Linked DNA regions of Homo sapiens. The protein of the gene in region 2 interacts with the protein of the main gene of each other region in a pairwise test. Each region holds a gene or a part of one and is shown on either strand. Other genes may lie near its edges.

Region 1 (3,500 bases), on a different chromosome or scaffold from region 2:
CTCTGGGCTAAGCCCTGGGGTTACAGGCAGCAAAGACACACCTATGAATTAGCATTGATCTGCAAACCACAGAGGGTACCATGGAATTGTCATGATTCAGTAGCCCCTCACCTCCTTCAACCCTTGACTGACTATACCGTCTACAATGTGCTGAGAATACAGTGGGGAACAATACCAAAAGGGTACTTTCATTCAGGAAACTTCCAGTCTAACAAGTCAAACTCCCCATCGCTTGGAAGGGAGAGTAAAAAAATATATATATATTCAGAAGAAAAAAGCACATGCATGCATTAGGCAGGGTGCAAGGCTGGGAGAAAAGGAGGAGTTGAGGAGCGCAGCTGGAATCTGGGATCTGCCTCGAGGAAGTGCGCGAATAGTGGTCCCCTCTCCTCCCAGAACAGTGGAGAGGCGCCAAGACCATCCCTACCTGGTGCCATCAAAGAGAGAGGACTGTTACGACCTCCTGCGAGTCCTGACAGGGAAAGGCCCTCTTTTGGGGTCAACTGTGGGGACGGCGCAATGCCAACCTGAGCCACCATTTGAAATGAGAAAAAGCGGCGTGGCAGAAAGAAATGAGTCTGGTACAGACCAGTGGTTGGTTTCCTAGGGTTAGAGGTCTAGGTCTACCTTCTGTTAGAAGAGGGGCAGTGGTGAGGCCTTGATGGGAGCCCCCTGCCCCAGAATTCACTTAAGAGCAGGTGTACCTTCCTCCCCTGCGTGGCTCCATGAAGCTGGGAAAGAAACGCACAAGAGGACCACCCTAGAGGCCCAGGCTTGTTTGGCCTGAAATCGCCTCACCCCTCCCAGACTGCACTGCTGACACCCCCTCTCCCATTAGCTTCCAGGAAGGAGAGTGAGAGGGCTGGGGAGAGGGAAGGGGCAGACACCCAGCAGTCCCTGGTTGGGGAGTTGGGGCGGGGGTGCAGACACACCAAGGGGCGGTTTGGTATCCATCCGCTGCTCCCTCCAGCGCGGCTCTTCCCAACCTCCTGATCCTGTCCCCTGCCTGGGTCCCCAGCCGCCCGCCCGTCCCTATATTATAGCAACGCCAGAAATGTGGTGGTGGTGGTCGCCACGTTAGGGTCCGCGGGGGTCCTCCTGAGGCAGCCTGGTGCCAACCCGCAGGCCCAGGCTGGGGCTCGTCATGGCCCCGCCCACCTCTGGGTCGGAACTAAGGTGGGCCTGAGAGGGGGGCGTCGAGCACTTTCGCGCCGTATCCCTCCGCCCCCCTTCCCGACACCCTCGCGGAGAGAGCGGTTCTTGCAGCATCCTGCGCAGCCCCTGCCCAGTTTGGTGCAGAGGCGTGGGGGGCGGGACGCGTCTTTGCCATTCTGATAGCGGGGAAAGCGGTGAGAATCGAAGTGAGGAGCCGCCAGAGGAGAGCTGAGGAGAGGAGGGGGAGGTCGACGACCTGGGCCCTGGGCCTCTGAAGGCAAGTGGGGGTGCGTGAGCTTGGGGTGGTCCGCCAGGGTGGACCGGCTGGCAGCCTGCCCCGCCGACCCTGACATCCTGGCAAGGAGGAGACGATCCGGTCGGAGCCGGTCGCCGGAGAGAGGTGCGCAGTGCTCGAGACCCCTGGCGATGGGGAGGCGGTGACCGGTGCAGGCCGAGCCAGGCCAAGGGCTGAGGGGCTGGCTTGAGAGGCACCGTCAGATCGTCTGGAGGAGAACCGCGCTGACCGCCTCCAAGCCAGCTTTGCAGGCGCCGGCGCCCCGCCCTCGACGGTGTCTGTGCCCGGAAAGGGCTGTGGGGGAGCTCCTGCGGGAGAAATGGCGGAGCGGGAGCCATTGTGGGGGGCTCCCGGGAAGGCCGGGGGGAGCCGGCGTCCCAGCTCTGTGCCCAGCCCACGAGAGGTGGGCCGCGTTCGCTACTCGGGGCCCTGATTCCGGAAAGGGGCCTGTGGGACCCCGTGTCTTGGGTGCTGTCCCTTCCCACAGGCTCCAGGTGGTTGTTAAAGTCTCCTGTCTGCGTGATAGGTCTGTTGGGTTCTCCAAAAGTGGAACTTTGAGTGGGTGAATTATGAAGACACTAAAATGAAATGTTTAACCGCCTTTTATAATACCGCACTGTTTTATTGCCTTACATATTTAGATCCCCACATCCAGTTTTGTGCAAGCAAATAGGGTGTGGACTTAGTCGAATTTCACAACAGTGGTCCATGTAAATAACAGGGTAGTATTTTTCCACCTTTCTTGTTCAGGATCTGTTTTCTCAACATGCTGATCCACTTTAAGTAATGTAATGATGTGTGAGAATGTGGGTTCCGAGTAGAGGGGTAATCTTTTTGAAGGGTCAATTTAGAACATTTGAAGTCAATCTGCTTCTTCAGTTTATGGTTCTGGAAACCAAAACTCCATCTCCAGCCACTCCTCACAGACCCTCTCATTTTGGTGCAGAAATAGTCCCACAGAAGAATTCATGGCATTTCTGATGGTGGATATCTGAGGAGCTATGAGAGTTGGGAGACTTTATTTACTTAGTTTCTGATTCTCAAAAAGGAGGTGTTAGAATCCGAATTCTGGGAATCTGTCCATTAACCTGCTATTTTTCTACCATTGTTAACATAGTCTCTTGGGGTTATTTTTTGCTAGTTGCTCCGCCTTCTTTTTGTAGGGCGTGACTCTTCTTTGGTGGGAAGGATAGCATCTCCTGAGAACTCCTGCTGTATAAGCAGGCTGACATAGGTGGTGAATAAAGTAGGATCTAGGTATGCATGGGGAAGGGGAAGGACATGCACAGATGGTATTAAAATAACAGTCTCCATTATGTTCCCTGCCTGCCTTGTAAGTACAATTGCCTATGTTCCACTACCTATTTCTGCACCTCATTTTTTTTGGTTCAGGAAAGGAGCTGTAACTTCTATTGGGAAAATGACTGACTTCAAAGTTGGCAGGAGGTGTAATCAGGCTGCAGGTCTTGGGGTGATTAGGGAATCATTGAGGAAGAGCAGACAGGTGGGAGACATTTAACATAGCCTTGAATATTCAAAAGCATATGTTATAATCCTTGTTATAGGCATTAGATCATCTTAGTCTCTTCTGTTTTCTTTCCTCTGCCTTCCTTTCTATCCTTAGGTCTGTTTCTTTCTAGGTTCCTGTAGAGATCTGTATGTAGCTGTTCACTTGGAAGTTAATTAAGAAAGAACAAAAACTATTCATTTGGATTCAAGGTAGGTTTATGTGTGAGCACCCCCGTTGATTGGGGTTATGGAAAGGCTGTTGCCAAGTGGGTTAGACCAGATCATATCTTGGTGCCACTGTCTTCCATCTTTCTAGTCACCTCTGACCTCACATTTGTGTACAAGTGATGGGGTGGGGTGAGCCAGGATTATGCCTATGAGGTAATTGGTAGATATTGGGGCAGGAAATGGGAAGATAAGCCACAAGGAGTACTAGGAGGCCAGAAGTGTTATATAACCAAAGCCCTAGATTTGGAAAGGCAGAAATTGGGTTTAGAGATTAGAGTGTAGGTCTGTCAACCAAATACTCAGAACTCCAATC
Region 2 (3,500 bases):
CCATACCCACTTTTGTTTAAAAAAAAAAAATTAAGTACAAGGGGGTTGGTCTTCAGCATCTGTCTTCTTTCTCCCCATCCTCTTCAACCTCACTTTTCTCCAACATTAGCATATGGGTAATAAAACATTATCCTTGTTAGTCACTCAGAATATAGAATGTAATTCTGAACGTGATCATCACTATTTCTATGGCTGAACAGAAATTAAACCATGCTGCCAAACTTAAGACCAACAAACAGACACATATACAAATATTTACCTCTTTTAAGCTTTCTTTGCAAAGAGGACAATATGGTGCATGATCTAAACAACGCTCAAGACAATTCTTACAGAACGAATGTCCGCAAGGGGTTGTTACTGGCTCAAAAAACAACCTGAAATCAACCAAGATACATGTTAGTTTTCACATTAAACTATCCACTGAAAAGCTTGTACTACTTTAGAACCATAACACTAATCTCTATTTAAAGGAGGAAGAAGGAGGGCCCAGCAGGCAGGAGAGGAGAGAAAGGGCAGTGATAAGTGTAACCATACCCTCCAGAATGTTTTAAAATTCTCCATCAACAAAGGCCTCCTGCCAAAGGCCTAGAGCCAAGGGCCTAGAGCTGTCCTGACTAACGCAACAGCCCCTGGACACTATGGCTACTAATCACTTGAAATGTGGCTAGTACAAGCTGATATGTGCACTGAATGTAAAATACATACCAGATTTCAAAGACTTTCTGCAAAATAAATAATGTAAAATACATCATTAAAAATCATTAGTTAGCTTTTGTATAGCCTTTAGATTCCCATTTTAATATCAACTTAAAAATGATTCCTTAATAGGTTTATAAGACCCTTATGATATAAAACTCATAAAAAGAATGACCTAATAAATAATGCAGTTGAATCCTAATGTTAGACTTAATACTAAATGTATTATTCAAACATTACAGAACAACTAGTTTTACTTATTTTCTGAAACATGATAGTTTTGAATTTGCTAGAAATAGATTTAGAGGTACTTTAGGGACTGTTTAGTATAATCCCCTCACTTCACAGATGAAGAAACCAAGGCTCAGAATTAAGACTTGCTCAGGAATGTAACTGCTACCAGCCTAGTGTGACCAGCACTAGGCCTCCTGACCCCGTATGAATCTTTTGATCCTACACAATTCATGTAAATGAGAAATGTTATTTCAAAACATTTAGTCTTTTAGAATTATAGCATTCTGAATAATGGAAATCCTTATCCTTATGTTACTTTAAAAAGACTTTATGGTTAATATACATTAATAAGATAGGATCATATACATAAAATACTAATTAGAATTCATACCCAAATTTAAAACCATGGAGATAGGTAAGTTTCAAAAATAATATCATCTATAACTTTCTTAGTACTTTACAATTTCCCAGATTCCTTTTATACTGAAGCCATGTGATTCTCACAACAATGAGATGTAGGCCATGCAAAGCTTGATCCCACTTTCTAAATTAGGAAACCTGAGGTTCAGAGATTCAGTTATTTGCCCAAGGCATGAAAGGTAAACCCAGGACTAAAATTCATGTCTTTTGATTTTTATTCCAGCATTGTGTTACTTTACATTGTCTATTATTACCTTTATCTACACGGTATTTTATGTATACTAACATAAAATATTCATCTTCTATAAAGTTTTATATGCTTACCTCATGCAGAGAGAACACTCGAAATCTGAGACATCGATTAATTCTTCTGGAATATCACCATAAGCTAAGGAAAACATACAGACTTCATTGGGAGTTTCTATTAAAACAAAGACATGGGGTTTTCTTCCTTAGGAAAAACTTTAAAGACTATTCTGACTAAATAAATTTATTTTATATAAGTGTAGAGCAAAATTTTTACCTCCTTGTTTTTTCAGCTTATTTCTTCCATCTTCATTTACAATCACATCCTGTTCTAAAAGAGACAACTTTCTTTTCAGCAGAACACCTTTTTCTTGAACTGACAGAACAGGTTCTGAGGACACTCTTTTTAAACAGTCCTCTCTGGCAGGCATTTCTGTTGAATTTATAGACTGTGCTGACTGAGCACGGTTTAAGCTTCCTTTGACAGGCTCTGAAGTGACCTCTGGTATTTCTTCACTCTACAAAAATACAATAAACAAAGGTAACTGTATTTCTTTACTATCCTTTATTCCTCTCACCAAGAATCAAACTGAAATGAAATTTCAATGCCTTATAATGCTCATTTTAATGTTCATTTAATAGCACTAACTTGATTCCAACACTGTGACAAGTAAATGATTTTTGCCAGCACAGTTGGCCCTCCGTATCCACAGGCTCTGCATCCGTGGGTTCATCCAACTGGGGATAGAAAATATTCTAAAAAAAAGCCTGAACATATATCGACTTTTTTCTTGTCATTATTCCCTAGACAATACAGTATAACAACTATTTACATAGTATTTACATTGTATTAGGTATTATAAGTAACCTAGAGATGATTTAAGTATACAGGAGGATGTGCATAAGTTATATGCAAATACTGTGCCATTTTATTAATATATCAGGGACTTGAGCATCCTTGGATTTGCTATCTGTGAGAGGTCCTGGAACCAATCTCCCACAGATACAAGGGATGACTGTACTTACACAGCCCTAGAAATCAAGGTGACTTATGTTATAATGAGGTTTAAAAGTAGTTATGCTATAACACAGCTGTTACTACCCTGAGGAAACATAAATGCAATGTTCTATACATATTTTTAAAGAACTAAAAGTTTTCTTTCACGGGACCTAAAATTGTGATTCATTAGCAAATATTTTACATAAAAGATTTTAGTGTAAAGTAAAGGCTATGGAAAAAATTCTACTATGATAACTAACCAGGTTAAAAGTACTTAAGTAGGTGCTAGTACTTGAAACTAGGAAAGTGAAGCTCTTAACTCGTAAAGAAATGGATACGCTAAACTCATGATAACCTTGTCTCACCCCGTACCTGCTTTGGGCTAGGTTCATTGAGAGACTGAGACTCTTCCATCACTGAATGAAAATCAAAAGGTCTGTTTTTAGTACATGGTAATGAACTCCAGGAAGATTCCTTCAGGCCTTCTTTTAAGTTTTCAGGTAATAATAAATCACATAAAATCTGTAAGAGAAATATTAAAAGTAGTAGAAAATATAAAATATTTGGTTAAGGATAATTTTGTATAAATTTACCTAATAAAGAATATGTAGAAAGTTTGTAGCAGACATTTTTTTAATGAGCAGGAGGGGAACAAGGTAAGCAACACTGTAAGTTCAAAAGTCTTGCAAAATTAGGTGTGCCTCATGGGGTCAAATCACCCGCAAACAAATGATTCAAAACTTTGAAAGGAAAGCATGGGAGTAGTAAGACTCAGGATAAAGGCTGATCTTTCAACACAAAGACTATAAAAAGATCTTAAAAGACATATTAAATATTTATCTCTGAATCTTAGTGAGCCCTATGCTATCAAAATAGTTCATGGTTCACCTCAATGTATATTTAC

The links.
Region 1: the proteins of LONRF1 (region 2) and GPRASP3 interact in binary tests that used the Homo sapiens proteins (3 or more experiments, as listed by UniProt).

Annotation. Positions count from the first base shown.
Region 1 is NC_000023.11:102,744,743-102,748,242, forward strand, and holds part of GPRASP3 (G protein-coupled receptor associated sorting protein 3), read left to right. Parts: intron 1-1,236; exon of another isoform or gene 1,237-1,432; intron 1,433-3,074; 5' UTR 3,075-3,169; intron 3,170-3,500. UniProt on the Homo sapiens protein: Survival and differentiation promoting protein that plays a role in the regulation of neurosynaptogenesis. Induces phosphatase PP2A activity which results in APP dephosphorylation and inhibits BACE1-mediated processing of APP.
Region 2 is NC_000008.11:12,735,027-12,738,526, forward strand, and holds part of LONRF1 (LON peptidase N-terminal domain and RING finger protein 1), read right to left. Parts: intron 3,119-3,500; coding exon 2,969-3,118; intron 2,335-2,968; coding exon of another isoform or gene 2,246-2,334; intron 2,115-2,245; coding exon 1,874-2,114; intron 1,772-1,873; coding exon 1,675-1,771; intron 375-1,674; coding exon 260-374; intron 1-259.